Regions from separate parts of the Homo sapiens genome. Here region 1 is linked to region 2. Evidence: fine-mapped expression QTL. A gene starts in region 2. The other region holds a variant in brackets. All regions are shown on one strand. Distances are from middle to middle.

Evidence for each region. PIP is the estimated chance that this variant, and not a neighbour inherited with it, causes the effect.
Region 1: its variant is fine-mapped to the expression of LASP1 in blood mononuclear cells (TOPMed, PIP 0.97).

What each region holds. Positions count from the first base shown.
Region 1 is chr17:38,890,946-38,899,267 of GRCh38, reverse strand. LASP1 (LIM and SH3 protein 1) reads right to left here. Exons shown (of 7, transcript NM_006148.4): 4 at 749-856. Among named protein-coding and RNA genes, the nearest start is that of MIR6779, 20 kb to the left of the region's middle. RefSeq lists enhancers at 75-394, 55-576, 805-914, 2,143-2,664, 2,665-3,186 and 3 more. The variant C/T (reference allele first, on the strand shown) is at 3,797.
Region 2 is chr17:38,866,066-38,874,387 of GRCh38, reverse strand. LASP1 (LIM and SH3 protein 1) reads right to left here and starts at 4,330. Exons shown (of 7, transcript NM_006148.4): 1 at 4,130-4,330. The coding sequence starts at 4,198. It overlaps TRC-GCA2-2 (tRNA-Cys (anticodon GCA) 2-2), which reads right to left and starts at 6,743; the gene lies at 6,672-6,743. It overlaps TRC-GCA4-1 (tRNA-Cys (anticodon GCA) 4-1), which reads left to right and starts at 5,025; the gene lies at 5,025-5,096. RefSeq lists enhancers at 2,467-3,068, 4,081-4,230, 5,721-5,900, 5,476-6,076, 6,077-6,679, silencers at 3,671-3,770, 4,291-4,600, 6,021-6,120 and a cis regulatory region at 6,338-6,951.

The DNA.
Region 1 (8,322 bases), 25 kb before region 2:
GCCCCTGCAGTTCTGTGTGCGCATCCCCCATGGTTGCTGCTCACCGCAGTGCCCTGCCCCCGCATGCCTAAAGCCACACAGGCTGCTTGCCTGTGGCTCTGCCAAGCAGGAAACTGAGGCCTGTTCTCTGGCCACAGGTGCCATGGAGGGCACACGATGCTGGGGACAGTTGATCCCCTGCCCACTCTCCATGCCCACCCCTGCCACAGCCAGATGCCACTGACCATCAGGGAGGCGGGGGGTGTGAGCCAGGGGGTGCAGGGCTGGCGGGTGAAGCTGGCTGGGGTTTTTACACAGGAAGGAAGAGCAGGCTGATGTGGGGGAGGAGGCCAAGGAAGGGCGGAAATGACTGCAATGTCAGCACCCAGGCGCAGACCAGGGGAGGCCAGGTGCTCCCCGCCCCCCAGTTTTGACCTTTGTGCTAAGATGAGACATGCAGTCTTCACCGATACCCACGATATCCAGAAAAAAGAACAACAGTCAGAGAGAGTGGGGGCTGATTTAGCACACAGGCCCCCACAGAATACAGTCCCTTCAAGAAGAAAATGCTATGCGTGCTGGTGGTCTGGGGGTACACAGAGAAGAGGCATCTGGGAACCCCAAGCTCTTCCCCAGGCCCACCCTGGAGGGCAGGGGTAGTGGAGGCACTGGCCTCATTCACATCTGCCAGGCTTGCGTCTGCCAGGCTGGCAGGAAGGGGACCAAACAGAGGGCAGCAGGGATGCCGCAGGGCAGGGCAAGAGCTCACGTTACTGATCTGGTCCTGGGTCTTCTTGATTCTCTGGAGCTCGGGCGTGTCTGCCACTACGCTGAAACCTTTGCCCTTGTTCTTCTCAAACTCCTCCTTGTAGCGCACCTGCAGGAGGGGAGGAAGAGGGATTGGAGTCAGGCCAGGAGCCGAAAGGGCCTCGGCTTGGGGCCCCTCTGAGGCAGCAACCAGTCAGGAGACAGGGACAGGGAGTCAGCAGAAAGACCCTGATCAGAAGTCCCCAACTCAAAGCAGAGGCCTCAGCCAAAAGGTGTTAGACTCGTAATAATAAGCCACTACCAAGTCTTTGGTGCACAGTGAATGGCAGGCACAGAGTCCAGGGCCTTACATGAACCATCTCATTTAGATCCCACCATACATATAGCCACGCAATTAACAGCTCCAATTTACGGATCAGGAAACGGAGCCACAGAAAGGCAAAGTCCCCTGCCCAAGGTCACAGAGCTTAGCAGTCAATGTCCGGCACTACCAGAGTGCAAACCCTCATCTGCCTGACTCTTGACCCTTCACTCCCTGCCCATCCTGTCTGGAAGCTTATAGGAAAAAGGTTCTTTCCAGGGCTCCCAGGGTGGCCCCAGCCCTCATGTTAGCCAGGATGTGGCCCTGCCCACTACGCCTGGGGGAGCTTTTCAGCAACCAGCTGAGTGAGGGCTGTGCCAAAGGACAGAGTTGGTGCCCAGAAAGGAGGGTGGTGAGACAGCCCCAGGGAAGGCTCCATCAGTGCGCCTTTGACAGGCCCCGCGGATTCTGGGAGCCTGCCGGGATGGCTTCAGAGGCCACCGCCATAGGAGGGGAGGAAAGCAGCGGGGGTCAGACAGCATCTCAGCAGGTCTCCAAGCTCCAGGGAAGAACCCTTCCACCCCACCACAGTACTAGAGGGACTCAAGTCAGACATCAGAAAGGACTTCCCTGGCACGAAAGGAATTGAAATATGAGGAACAGCTTGTCCTCCCCTGAGGGTTTTGAAGAACAGAATGAGGCTGAGAAAACTCATGGAACAGGAAACTATTCCTTGGCTTCCAGAGACTTCACTGTCCACCTCATCAGCCATCTGTTCCAGACCCCACCAGCTGCTTGGATTTCCTCCACGGGGGCTGCACTGTCCTGGACACAGGTCAGCCCAGGACACAAACCCAGGCAGTTCCCTGGCAGGGAATCATCTGGCAGCAGCACCGAGCTGTGCTTGGACTGGAGCGACTGCGCATGCGCATGCAGCCACGGCCACACCTGTCAGGTCCTCTGCACATGCCTGTGGGGGTCAGAGTCCTTGTTTGTCTCCTGAAGCCCCCAGTCACTCATCCATGTGGTTCCCTCTCCTTCTCTGTTCTGATCCAGACAAGAAGGGCTTGGATGTGCTGTTCCCCATTAGTTCAGAAGTGAATGCAGTGGATAGAGGCACCAACCCACCCCAAGAGTCCAGAACCTGCCTAGCACCAGCTCTTCCTCAGTCCTGGAAGCCCTGGGCCAGCACGGTGACTCTTAGTGGGAGGCCCTTTGGGAAGCGGGCATCGGGGAAGGTAGGGCACTCAGAGGCAGAGAAATGTAGCTCCAGATACAGAAGCCCTGCATCTCAAGCCCCTGGCCTCGGTTTCTTCATCTGTAAAAGAGTTGTGACAGAAATCAGGTATAATATGGGGAGGGGGCTTCTTATCACCAAGTCTGGGCACAAAGCCAGGCGGAGCTAGCACTAACGCAGGCTCAGTCTCCCACTTCTGAGTGATCTTGGGCCAACGACTTCACATCTCAAGACTCAGTTCCCACATCTGTAAAATGGGGACCATAACGCCAGTCACTCCAACCCACGATACAGACAGTGGCTCTAAAGCAGCAGCGCACTGTGGAGGGCCAGTGTGAAAGTGCTCTGTCAGCAATGAAGTGCTGAACGAGTGCCAGTCCCCCACTCCGTCCCCTGCTTCCTGGCTTTGCAAGGGTCAGGCCCCTAATCCAGGGGAATAATCGCCATGGCGACGCTGCAATGACATCAGCAGGTTCCCAGGATCGGGAACTGCTTCTGCCTCCCCCTCCCTGTTGGGGAAGGATCATTCATTTCACTGCTAACATAGGAGGCCCACAGAGGGTAGGGGTGAGGGGTAGGGGCTGAGAAGGGAGGGAGCCTGGGATCAGCACCACCTTGCTGTGTGTTTCTAAGCAAGTCAGTTCCCCTCTCTGGGTCCCCTGAAGGGAGCTGGCTAGCTGATCTCTAAAATCCCTCCCATTTGGAGTCTGTGACCATTTTAAAGCACCTTCAGACCCTGACTATGGATAATCAAGACAGGGAGGCTCTTTGAAAGGTCTTTGGGTATGGAAGGGGTGGCAGAAGTGAAGGGTGGGGGGCCAGGGGTGTAGGGAGGGCCCAGCCCAGAGCCCCTCTTCAGGGCTCCCTTCTTGCCCTGGCAGGAGTGCTTGCCCCTGTTGTCTAGGATGGCTCACCAGGGTGCTGTGGGGGTCCCTGTGGAGGAAGGGACCTGCCCAAGGTCACAACCCAGTTGTCGCTCAGGCCAGGATGCAACTCAGCGCTTCGGTCAGAGGACCCCACTTCTGGGAGATGCCTGGGCTCCCAGAGGACCCCACTCCTGGGAGATACCTGGGCTCCCATTTTGGAAACTCTGCTGTCAGGCCCAGGACTGACTGACATCTGAGGCTCCTGACACCCAAACAACCACCATCCGTGAAACTCTAATTTTTCTGTCAGTTCTTAGTTGTTCTCCCTGGATCTATCTTGCTTCTCATCCCAGCAGACAGGAGGTGCAGATCAACATTTGTTGGATCATGAATGAATTGAATGCAGACACGTAATCTCCAAACAAAGCAGCATAATTGGGAAAACAACTGCCTTGATGACCCAATATAAGAAGAAGGATCATTACTTAAAAACAAAAATTATGCCAGGCACGGTGGCTCACGCCTGTAATCCCACCACTTTGGGAGGCAGAGGTGGGTGGATCACCTGAGGTCAGGAGTTCATGACCAGCCTAACATGCTGAAACCCCATCTCTACTAAAAAAAATACAAAAAAAGTTAGCCGGG[C/T]GTGGTGGGCGTAATCCCAGCTACTTGGGAGGCTGAGGCAGGAGAATTCCTTGAACCTGGGAGCCGGAGGTTGCAGTGAGCTGAGATGGTGACACTGTACTCCAGGCTGGGCGACAGAGTAAAACTCCGTCTAAAAAAAAAACACAAAAATTAGGCTGGACTTAAAAAACAAAATGGCTCATGTCTGTAATCCCAGCAGTCTAGGAGGCCAAGACAGGTGGATCACTCGAGCCCAGGAGTTCGAGACCAGCCTGGGAACATAGTACCCCATCTCTATTTAAAAAAAAAAAAAATTAATAAAAATCTCTAAAAAAATACAAAATTTATTGAGCGAAATACAATTTCCACTATTATGTGCCTACCATGTGTTGGGCCAACATACTTTGTAACCCATCCCCTTCTAACAAAAAAGAAACACTAGTTTTTAAAATTTAGGCAGGGCGCGGTGGCTGACACCTGTAATCCCAGCACTTTGGGAGGCTGAGGTGGGCAGATCACTTGAGGTCAGGAGTTTGAAACAAGCCTGGGCAACATGACGAAACCCTGTCTCTACTAAAAATACAAAAATTAGCCGGGCATGGTGATGCACGCCTGTAGTCCCAGCTATTCAGGAGGTGGAGGCGAGAAAATCGCTTGAGTCTGGGAAGTCAAGGCTGCAATGAGCCAAGATCACGCCACTGCATTCCAGCCTGGGAGACAGAGAGAGACCCTGTCTCAAAAAAATACAAATTTAAAAAAAAAATTAGACACACACAGATGGAGAGGAGAGCTGATGGAAAGGGCCGGGGCTGGAAGTCATGGTCAAAAGGTTGCTGTGTGTATTTCCCAGCTTCTTCATGTCCAAGTTCCATTTCCTCTCCTTTCCGGGAGAACAGTAGTAGCAAACACTGAATGCTGACTCCACGTCAGGAATCTTTAAATGCTTAACATATCCTCCTATCTCACACCACCCTCTGGAGAGAGGTAATCCACATTATTCAGACGAAGGCACTGTGCACAGAGGTTAAGCAACTTGCCCAAGGTCACACAGCTGGTGGCAGCAGATGCGAGATTCAATCTCAGGCCAGCTAGTTCGGGTAAGAGTGATACTCTACCACCCGTGCTGCTTACAAGATCCGAGGAGGATAGAAACCCCCCTGTAATTTCCCATGACCCCATCAAGGTGAGTTGATGAAGGAAAAAATGGAAGAACAGTCTACTGGCACTTGGCACTTCTGCCTGGGCTCAGGGCCATACAGACACCTCCAGCTCAGTCCCACCCCAAAGCCACTGCCTCTGCTCAGCCTGGGGGTGGGATAGGAGCAGCAAGTGAGAAGGGGGGCTGGGGGTCCAGCTGCCAGCCCCCTGCCTCAGCCAGGCCTGGGCAGGACCACCGAGAGGGTCATTTCTGGACAGTTCTGTGGTTACCTCCTCCACAGGGGAGGCTCCAGGTGTCCCAGACACCCAAAGTGCCATTTTGGAGACCAATATAGAGATGGGAAAATAAATAAAGCTGAAATAGCCTGGGCAGCTTCCCAGAGACAGGGAAGGGCAAGGCAGGCCCAGAAGGGGCATGGAGAGAAGCCAGCTGACCCCGTGGGGTGAAGCTGGGTGAGCAGAAGAGGCTCCCCCTTCCCTTCCTGCTAGCCGCAGGCAGCTCTCTCCAGCTCTGCCCCCACGGCAGCCACAGGAACCAGAACCCGTCACTGCTCCAGCCTGGCCGGCTCAGCCCTTCCAAGCCTCAAAGCATCAGGCCCAGCCCCCAGCTTGAGGCAACTGGGTTTGCTGTCCTCATTTTACTGGTGAGGAAGCAAAGCTATGAGAGGAAAGACAGTCTGAGGCCAGTCTCAGACCACACAGCTGGTGGGCGGTGGGAAGGGAGACAGAACAGGCCTGCAAAAAGGGCAGTACCCTTTCCTCCCCTGCCTATCCTGCCCTCAGCCCCCAACCCCCGAGGACCCCCACCTCAGGGGAACAGAGCCGTGCCCTTAGTGCAAAGCCCTACCCTAATGTGGCACCCCTCAGAGCATACAAACAGGGTCGGTACACTCCTGCCCATGGACCCATCTCTAAGCTTCTTAAAGTGGGGCCAAAAGTCCTTATCAGAATCACGGGGGAGTCAAAATGCAGATTCTTGGGCCTCACCCAGAGCTGCCAAGCAGAAGTCCCTTGGGTGGGGCCTAGGAATCTGCATTCCAACAAGCCCATCCTACTTGCTGCTGACTGGTGCATCCTGCAGGGTGGGAGCACAGGGCTCGGTGCCTGTGCCATCAGCACTGTTCAGAGCAACGGGCTCCAGGGCCAGGTCATGGGACTTGATGTCTGCCCCTGTCCCTGGGCTCTGCACAAGCAGGGCAGCCTCTGTAAACCTCAGTTTCCCTATCTGTATGATGGGGATAATAAGAGCCCCTCTTTCATCAGGTGGCTGTAAGGATTAAACAAAGTCAGGCATACACGCATACATGCGTGCATGCTTGCACACACACACACACACATACACGCGTGCATGCGTGCACACGCACACACACACACATACACACACGGACACGCTCTGGCCCTCAGTGAGGCCCTAATGAAGAGTGACCGCCATTTTCATCTCCCAAGAGGCCCCCCCGGGAACCCAGCAGGCTATGACCCTGGGAAGCAGGGGGCACAGGCCAGGGACAGGAGCCCCCAAACCCAGAGCGTGGTGCTGGCTTCCCCTGTGGGGGGCAGAAGCAGCCCCTGCCAACAGCATGCCCTGCCCACTTGCTGCCCATCCTGGGCAGGGGGAACAACGTGGAGGTGCTTCCTCCTCAAACCCCACCCCTCGGGGATAGGGTGCCGGGGCAAAAAGAGCTGCAGCCACGCTTTTGTGGAACTGACAAAGGCTGAGGGGTTTGAATTTCTCCCCTGAGAAGGGTGTGTGTGTGTGTGTGTGTGTGTGTGTGTGTGTGTGTGTCTCCAAAGACCTGCTATCTGCTCCCAGCACCTCTTCTCCGAGGTCCTTCTGAGCCCCTCCACCTCTGGCCCCCATGGCCCTTCCACAGGGCAGGGAATTGAAGGCAGGAGTCAGGGCCTGGCTAGAATCTGTAAAATATGGCCAGGCAGGCTGTGGTGTTCCCTGCTTCCTAGTAACTTCAGCTTCTGTGCCGCAGGTGGGTGGGTGGCAGGTGTGAGCTGCTGCTCTCTTCCTCTGTGAGCCTCAGGCCCTACCAGGGCTGTGCAGCATCAAGGGCCCCAGACTTGGGAGTGACAAGACCAGGGCCCAAATCCTGGATCCGCATTCACTCACTCGGTTCCCCTATCTGTAAGACAGAGACGCTGGGTCTTTTACCTTCTCCCAGAACCCAGTCAAGGATAAACAGGGGAACTAACTAAAGGCACTTGCTGAACTACACAATTTCTTGCTTTTCCTTTTTTTAGAGACAGGGTCTCACCCCATCACCCAGGCTGGAGTGTAGTGGTGCGATCATGGCTCACTGCAGCCTCCAACTCCTCAGCTCAAGTGATACTCCCGCCTCAAACTCCCAAGTAGCTACGACCACAGGTGCACACCACCATCTCTGCTCGTTTTTTTTTTTAGGGACCAGGTATTGCTATGTTGCCCCAGCTGGTCTCGAACTCCTGGGCTCAAGTGATCCTCTTACCTTGGCCTCCCAGAGCACAGGGATTACAGGCGTGAGCCATGGCTCCCAGCCCTAAACTACAAAACTTCTCAACAGCATAAGGAACTATCATGTTTATTATTAAGGTAGAGACTGTTTCTTGGGGAGTGGATAGTCCCTGGGTTAGACAAACCTACATTCAAAGCTGCCAGTGTCTATTTCCTCTTCTCTGAAGTGAAGTGATGCTACAGCTGCACAGGGCTGGGTGAGGATTAAACGAGCTCACACGCCGGGAGCACTGAGCCCTCCATCGTCAGCTGTGAATATTATTATTGCCTCTCCTACCCGCAGGACCTCAGCTAGTCCCTCAAAGTCGCTGGGCCTCAGTCGCCTCATCTGTAACAATGGGGAAGATAGCACCTTCCTCACAGGGCTGCTGGGAGGATGCTGAGAGAGGGTGCATGGAAAGCCTGACAAAAGGCAGGGTCGGTTCTCCCTGATGGACCCGGGCAGTCACATCAAGATCAGGCAGCAGGAGTCCCCTCTGGAGGAACTGGGAGAGATCCCCTCTGTGGCCCGGGTGGAACCTCTGCAGTCTTCTCCCGATCCTGAGTGGGTCCTGGGCGCGCTGCCCACGTGGTAAATTCCCCTACATGTATTCTCGCGCCTAATCCTTCATCGGCTGAAGCCCCGCCCCACCCCACCCCACCTCATCACTGGCCAGGTTTGTCCCAGGAGCCCTCGCACCCCCAGGCAGGGTGGGTCAGCTGTTCTGTTCTCAGGACTCCAGACCCTTTGCTTATTCCTCCGTGTCCCCTAAAGACCAAGTTCTCCCTAGGCCTGGAACCCGTCCTCCCCTCCTACAGGGGCACATACCTCCCACTCAGCAGTGTTCTGGAAAGTCAAGCCAAAGGAGACAGAGGCGGAACAGCCCCCTATCCTGTGCCCCCATGGCAGGGC
Region 2 (8,322 bases):
TGCCTTGTCTCAATGGGGTCTGGGGAAGGACACTGTCAGGGAAATATGTCCAGAGGACCCCACAGTGACCCCGTCTGCCTCTGCCCTGCCCCATGGGCTCTGTCCCAGAGCAAGAGCCCCCCTCTTTTAAAGGCCCCAGGCAAGATGATTTCAGCGAAGCATTCCTGGGCCTCAGGACTCAAGGAAACTGCACCTCGAGGCATGCACCTCTGCCCCTTCCTGCTGCCTGCAAAGTCCATGGCTTCCCTGTTCACAGAAACCAGACAGACCCTACCTCTGCTGCCTGTTAGAGGCCTCTCAGCCTGGATCCGAGGCTCCAAGGCAGGGTCATCTTGATCTTCCCTTGCCTACCTGCAACCCACTCTAAAGAAAGGTAAACAGGCTGGTAGGGGCAGAAGCCTGCAAGGATACCCCTCACTTGGGACAGCCTGTCCCTCTGTGGCTCTGGGTTGGGGGGGATGTGGCAAGCTTCGTGTCACTGTGCCTGCAGCCTGGCACCTTGGCCTCTGAACCCAGGCTACCTGGGGTGGCCATGACTCAGGGATGGATTATGAGACCATCTCTTCCCTTCCTGTTGCCCAGGGTTACAGTTTCTCCCTCCTGCAGAGGCAATGCCAGCCCCACCCTGGCCGGGGCACCAGCCTAGCTTGGTTGGCCACCTGACCCGCTGGCTTAAAGGCATAGATCTTTGCTGCACCTCCACAAATTCCGAGGAGGACAGGATTATTCCCAGTGGCCCCACGCCCCCATACAAGACCCCAGGCCCAGAGCATTCCTCCAGATAGGGTCAGGAAGGGATGGGACCTACTTTTGGCACAAATGAGATGTAAATAAAATATAAATATGTATAAATAAAAGTACTTTCTGCAAACACACTGGCAGAAGAGCTGAGCAGAAAGAACTGTGGATGTGAATTTCAGCTCTAAGAGAGGGAGATGAGCCACATGGGCTACCTGAGCCTCCATTTATGGAGTGCATCGTTTACAAGAGCGAATACACCTACTTTGTGAGGCTGCTGTGAAGACTGAGCCCAGCATATCGTGATAACTAGTAGCTATTATGAAGGGATGGTCACAAGATGATGGTGGGGTACTCTAAGCTTCAGCTAGCAAAACGGGGCACCACAGCTGTGAGGACTTCAACCCCCTCGAGTGGGGAGGGAGCGCTGAGACAAGCAGAGGCAGAGAGCCCACCCTAACAGGGGATTCCAGGGGAACTGGCAGCAGACCAATCCTCTACCTCCACCTGTTTTCAGAAACCTGGGGAAGCAAGCCAGGAAAGAGGGACGTGGCGAGGTTCTTGACAACACAGCTCCCTAGATACAAAGCAGGTGCACAAAGTAGGTGCTCAATAAATATTTGTTGAATGAGCAAATGAGGTCACCCTGTTTCTCCCCCAGCTCTAATCCCAGAAGTCCTCTGGAGAAGCAAATCTCGACCTCCTTCCTCAAACACTGTCATCAGCAATACATATTTATCCAGCTTGCAAAGCATGCTGGGTACTGCAGGTTGGGGGCAGGGTGGCCTTCAGAGGTGACAAGGTTTTTACCCACCTATGCCTTTGGGAGATAAGGCTCAGGGAGGAGAAAAGGCTGAAACCAAGGACACACCCTGTGCTTTGGGCCACGTAGTGGGCTGAGTACCATGGGGGATTGTAGAGAAACGGGTGAGTCTAATTTGACTCTTTTGCTGTAAATGGGAGGCCTTGGGAAGTTGGTTAGCAACTATGGGACTGAAGCTGCCTATGGGACTGAAGGTTTCCCCTCCTCCCTGGTCACAGCCCAGCATCCTCCAGGCACTGGCTCCCCATTCCTGGTCCTATCCTTACTGCCTGGAGCAGGTGGAGAGGAATAGGTCTGATACCTGGATATTTCAGGTCTCCTGCTCAGTACAGGGGGCGAGGTCTCTCCAGGGCCACTTCCTATAGGGAGAGTTCTAAAAAGAGGAAGGAATCACCAACTCCCACTTCCCTGGGCAACCCCCACTTGAACGTCCTCTTCCAGCTAGGGTAAGAGAACTGGGGAGGGCACCCTGCCCATCCCTGCTCCCCTCCCCTCGGGTACACGGCACTGAAGGTCTTTCCAAGGGGAGTGGTGTGGAGCTGAACAGAGCATCCCAGAGAGGTAGGGAGGGCATAGTCTATACAGCACCCTCTTTAGCACTCAGGGACTTTAGTGCACTGCCCCACCTTTAAGGAAATGACATCATCATACCCATCTGACAGATGGTGAATACTGAGGCCTAGAGACATTCATAAAACTGGTGGGAGCAGACCTGGAACAAGGACCCAGTTTCCCAACTCCTGGAGTGGCAATCCTGCCTTCATGTTTTGCTTTTTCCTTATACGGGTCAAGTGCCCACTGCCTCTTCCCAATTCATGACTGTGGAGAAGAAGGGGACCACAGGGAACTCAAGATGCAGAGGCCAAAATCTCTGCCACGAGGGGCGGGCGAAACCCCAGTGTGCAAGGACAGGTACATTCTCAAGGGGAGACTTCATTATCTGATAGCTCTAAGCTCAAGTCCTGCCCAACAGCGGCTGGCATGGTCATGGGGAGATCAACAACTTTCCTCGTGCCCACAATATACCCCCTCCTCTCCTCCTGCCCAGTCAAGCCCAGGACCAGGAGGAACAGTGACACAGCAGCGGCCCCATATGCCCACACTCCCCAAGAGCAAGTTCAAATATCTTTCAGAACCTCCAACCCCACCTCCTCACGCTGACTCAGAGGCCAAAGGTCACTGAGGAAGCTCACACACCAAGGGGGAGGGGAGAGATAAGGTGTCCAATAAACTATCCTCTCCTGAACAAAACCTGGCTCCAGGTCAGTAATGAACTTGGCCCCAGGGCTCTATACCCCTCTTTCATCTAGTGTTCCCACCCTTGCACCTCTCTTCCATCCAGTCCTCCCAGCCCTCCCAGTTCAGATGGAAAGGACAGAATACTTGGACTTGGAGCCAGCTTTGGGTGGTGGATGAAAGACGCGGTGAGGAAGGGCACAAAATCACAGAGGCCTCCCCTCCAGACTGGGGAGGGGATGCAGAGGGGCAGGTTTTACCTTAGGATCTTACGGAGCTTACAAGAGAACAGGATCCTACCCTAAACTGTACGGGAAACACCCAGTTCTACTCTCCAACCCCCCTCCAAAAGTCTAATGGCAACCAGATGAACAAGTCCAGCATTGGGGAGACAGGGCCCCCAGGGGACACTGAATCTCCACAAGGCCACCCTCCCCTCCCCCCAATACCTCCCCCTTTCCTCGGCTTCCCCAGAACTCAGCCAACCCCACCCTCCATTGGAGAAACCTGCTTTGAAAAGTTAGCTCTTTGTTCTTCCACACGGTCTCCTGGCTCTGAGCACAATTTCAGGAGATCTCAGCTAAGCACCCTCCACCCACCCTACTCTGCCACCCAACCCCACCCGGCTCAGGCTGGACGGCCCAGCACCGGGAGTTGGCTTTTAATTGGAGGTGGGGGTTGGGAAGCTGTGGAGGAGGTCTGCGAGTCCTTTAACGACTGAATCCAAGGGGGTGCAGGTCGTTCAAAAACGGGGCTCTTGCGGCAGAGCCCGGGTCCTTACCCAAAACCCCCCGCATCAGATGCCACACACTCGCAGGCTGATAGCCCCCGCCCCGCCAGGCCAGGAAGCCAGGCCACCCCCGCCGGAGCGGACGGTTTTGCAGGGCCCCCCAGCCTCTGCCCCGCCCCCCCGCCCCCTCCACCAGCGCCCCGCGCTTCCGCCTACTTGGCGCTCGGCGCAGAGCGGAGAGGGAGCGGCCGTCTCTTCTCACTCTCCAGGCCGTAGGGGGCGGGACTGCACCCCTAACCTTCCCCCAACACACCCCGGCGCCTGACTTCCCTGCTCCTCTCCCGTCCTCCCAACCCCGGGACACAGAGCCCACCCCTCTCCAGCAGCGGCTGCCCGCTACGCGTGGACTTCCCGCCTCGCCCCAGATCTCCTGGTTTTCAGACTGGGATGTGTCCCCACACCCCATGACACCGCCCGCTCGCCCTCCCTCCATTCTCCTGGGATCGCGGGGATAAGGCGGCAAAGACCCGGCCCTTCTCTCCTCCCTGGATTCGGAGCACTGCGGGGGATTGCAAAGACGCGTCTCCCGGTCCCGGGCTCACCTTATCCAGACAGTTCACCTTCTCCGTGGGATACACGATCTTGCCGCACCGGGCGCAGTTGGGGTTCATGGTTCCGAGAAAAGCTGGGGCGGGGACGCCTGAGCTCACGCGCGTCCTGTTCCCCGAGGCGAGCTGGCGGGAGGCGGCCGCGGCTGCAACTACACAGGCAGCAGCGACGGCGGCTGGAGCTGGGGAACTGGCCTCCGCCTCCGCCCTCCTTCCCCTAATAAACACAGCGGGGAGGAGGGGCTGCACTGGGGCGGGCACGCGCCTCGGGCGCGGGCAAGGGCACGCGCAGCGAGGCGCGCTCTCCGGGCGACGTGGGGCTGCGCGGGGGCGGGTTCCTGGGGGGACGGCGGGGCCCGCGGTGCTGGCGCCTCAGCGCTCTCAGGCTGACTGCGCCCGGTGCCCAGGGCCCTTCCCCAGCCGGAGGCGGCGCAGAGGCGAGCAGGCTGCACATCTGGGGCGCCCGGGCTGCGGGAGGCGGGCTAACCCCTCAAGCCCGTCGAGGGTGGGGTTGGATCCTCCTGAACGCTGGAACTGATTCACCGCATTCGGGGACTTTCTACCCGGCATGAATCTGCGGACCGAACGGGGACCCCCTACCCTGCCCCTCTTAGCTCTCTTCCGGCCCACACCCTTTCCCACATTTGTGGGGCGGAACCCGTCCCTCCCTCTTGGACCCTGCGCGCTGCCGGGCCCGGGCTAGTGCTTCCCTCTCGAGCCCCTGCAGTGCACCTTCCCGGGGTTCCCCGGATGCGGGCACCGTCTGCGTTCAGCTTGACCCCTTTTTCTCCAGCATTCCTTTCTCCTTCTGTTACACCACTACTCACAGTGTAGCAGCTGCAACAATGCTTAGCACCCAAGGAGCCGCCTCCAGGCGCTGTAGAGGCGCGGGGGTATAGCTCAGTGGTAGAGCATTTGACTGCAGATCAAGAGGTCCCTGGTTCAAATCCGGGTGCCCCCTCAATGGCTTGGTTTTTCCTTCCCCTTGTTAACCATCTGTTTTTCATTCTTGACTCACATTTTAACATTGGGTCCTGACTAAAAAAAAAAAAAAAAAGAAAAGAAAAAGTATCTTCCTCATTTTTCAACCTTAGCAGAAATCTTTCGGTTTTACTTTGTGCTCAGCGGGAGGAGGGGGTGGGTATAAAAGCTGCGCGACCGCATTACTCGCGCCAGAGGTGTAGGGATTTCTGCGGCCACGGGCGCCAGCCTCAGATGGGTCAGACAGTTCGAGGTGCCGGGTTTGAGGGACAGGATGTTTCCAATGGGGGTAGGGAGACAGGGGAACGCCTCAACTTGGCGTTCCTTTTGGGGGTGGAGGGTGGGTCAGGCGAGGGAAACCCATAGACACAGCCCTTCTCCAACTTCAACTTTCTGTATTAATGGTGACATGGACGTGCTGTGTTCATCCTTGACTATTAATGTACAAAAGTAAAGTTATAACCCAGTGCAAACTGAGATAAACGAACACAGTGTTTCTCAAATTTGAACGTGCATCAGAATTACCTGCAGGGCTTGTTAAAACACTGCTAGTTTCTGATTCTGTAAGGGGGCCCCGAGAATTTGCATTTCTACCAAGTTTCCAGGTGCCTCTGGTGCTGCTGGTGTGGGGACCACATTTTAAGAACCACTGAAGTAAGAATAAAAGGCCATGGAGTTTCATAACCTAAAGATGGGGACAAGTATCTGCTGGCTGCGTGCCTGACAGGGTCACTGTTGGGCCGGAGGAAAATGGTAAGTGTGACGGGAGACAAGGGCGTCCCCCTCGACTAGGTTTTGCCCAAAAAAAGGAAAAATAAAGGAGAAAGGAAGAGGCGTGCTGCCTGGGTCAAAGGGCAGCTGCGATATTTTAAACCCGGAATGTGGTTGTGTCATTCCTCGGACCCCGGGGAAACGCGCATTTTTTTCTCCTGGCTCCTATTACTGTGAGCTGTATCTCTAGGCTGAACAGAGAGATCACAGATCAGCAGAGCTGCGGTTCCGTGCAAAACCCAGGAGGAACCAGTTTTACCTCTCCTTTAGGCCTTGAACTTTCCATGTATAGCTTATCAAGCCAAAGCCCTGCCTATGAGCTGAGTCAAGAAGGAAGAGGGGAAAATTGCTCGCTGTCTACCTTCTATCTGTGTGCCCTGTCCTGTTCGAGTTCGCGAGTATATGAAAACCTCTGAATTTGGATTACTTCTCCTAGTTTTCATAGTCAAGTACGAACTACTGCCCCGTCCAAGACATATTTTTTACCCCAAAACAAATTATAATTAACGTTAAACCAATGGGCATCGGAGATGGAAATCGATACGCGCCTTTGTTCTCCAACTGAGAGTACTGGTGCGCTTATCGCCACTTGGGGTATGAGGGCTCAGATCCACCTAAAGGCAGCCTCTGGTTGCTGTTCTCTCCCTCTAGGGTACGGGAATCCTTTCAAGGTGAAAATTAGGTAGGTGGAAGATACAAACGACACCTCCCGTGAGTTTTGCATTCAGAACTCGCTGACTCAGGTTATTCCTGGATGGCTGTGAAAAAAACTTAAAGAAACCCGAGGGGGCACCCGGATTTGAACCGGGGACCTCTTGATCTGCAGTCAAATGCTCTACCACTGAGCTATACCCCCTCTGGCGGTGGCTCTCTGGTAAATTGTTTTTACATCGATTGATCCCAAAATTTTCATACTTTCACCATTCGTTCAAAATTAGTGTCTCTTTGCTAGATTATACTGAAATTACCAATGAGGAAGGAGAAATTAAAAGACTAGGCCAAGATAGGCCGGGCACAGTGGCTCACGCCTGTAATCCCCAGCACTTTGGGAGGCCGCGTCGGGCGGATCACGAGGTCAGGAGTTCGAGACCAGACTGACCAAGATGGTGAAACCCACCCCCCCCCCCCCCACCTCCGTCTCTACTAAAAATACAAAAAATTAGCCGGTAGCGGTGGCGGGAGCCTGTAGTCCCAGCTACTCAGGAGGCTAAGACAGGAGAATTGCTGCAACCCAGAACCCAGGAGGCGGGGGTTGCAGTGAGCCGAGATCATGCCACTGTACTCCAGCCTGGGCGACACAGCGAGACTCCATCTAAAAAAAAAAAAAAGGCTAGGCCAAGACGTGGTGGCAGTTTGAAAAGCGTGTGAATTTAGGTGCCAATCTGCTTTGTCTAGGTTCAGTTCTTTTTTTTTTTTTTTCTCCAGACGGAGTCTTCCTCTGTAACCCAGGCTGGAGTGAGTGCAGTGGCGCAATCTCGGCCTCCCGGATTCAAGCGATTCTCCTGCCTCAGCCTCCCGAGTAGCTGGGATTACAGGCGCCCGCCACCGCGCCCAGCTAATTTTTGTATTTTTAGTAGAGATGAGTGTTCCACCATGTTGGCTAGGCTGGTCTCGAACTTCTGACTTCATGATCTGCCCGCCTTGGCCTCCCGAAGTGCTGGGATTACAGGCATGAGCCACCGCACCCCTGCTTGGTTCAATTTTTGTTTGTTTGTTTGTTTGTTTTCCATTTTGTGGAGATGGGGGCAGGTGGTGGGTGAAGGAGGCCGTCTCCCTATGTTGCCCAGAGACGGAATTTCGCTCTCCTTGATCAGTCGGGATTGCAATAGTGCGATCTCGGCTCACCGCAACCTGTGCCCCCCAGGTTCAAGCAATTCTCCTGCCTCAGCCTCCCGAGTAGCTGGGATTACAGGCATGCACCACCACGTCTGGCTAATTTTGTATTTTTAGTAGAGACGGGGTTTCTCCATGTTGGACAGGCTGGCCTTGAACTCCCGATCTCAGGTGATCTGCCCACCTTGGCCTTCCAAAGTGCTGGGATTACAGGCGTGAGCCACCACACTCGGCCTAGGCTCAATTCTTTATCCACAATCCCACTCATCTCTCCCCGCTAGCAAGTCAGAGAACAACCTCCTGCAAAACTGGATAAAGTTTTTCCTTGGTCTCTCCAAAAAGAATACGAACACGCCATTGCACTCCAGCCTGGGCAACAAGTTTCGCTCTCAACAAGAGCGAAACTCCGTTGCAAAAAAGAAAAAAAAAAAAAACTAAGTAAGAAAGAAATCCTGCAATATGCAATAACGTGGATGAACCTTGAGGATATTATGCTAAGTGAAGCAGGCCAGTTACAGAAGACCAAATACTGCATGATTCCACTTATATGAGGTTTCTAACATAGTCAGACTCCCAGAAGCAGAGAGTAGAACGATTGTTGC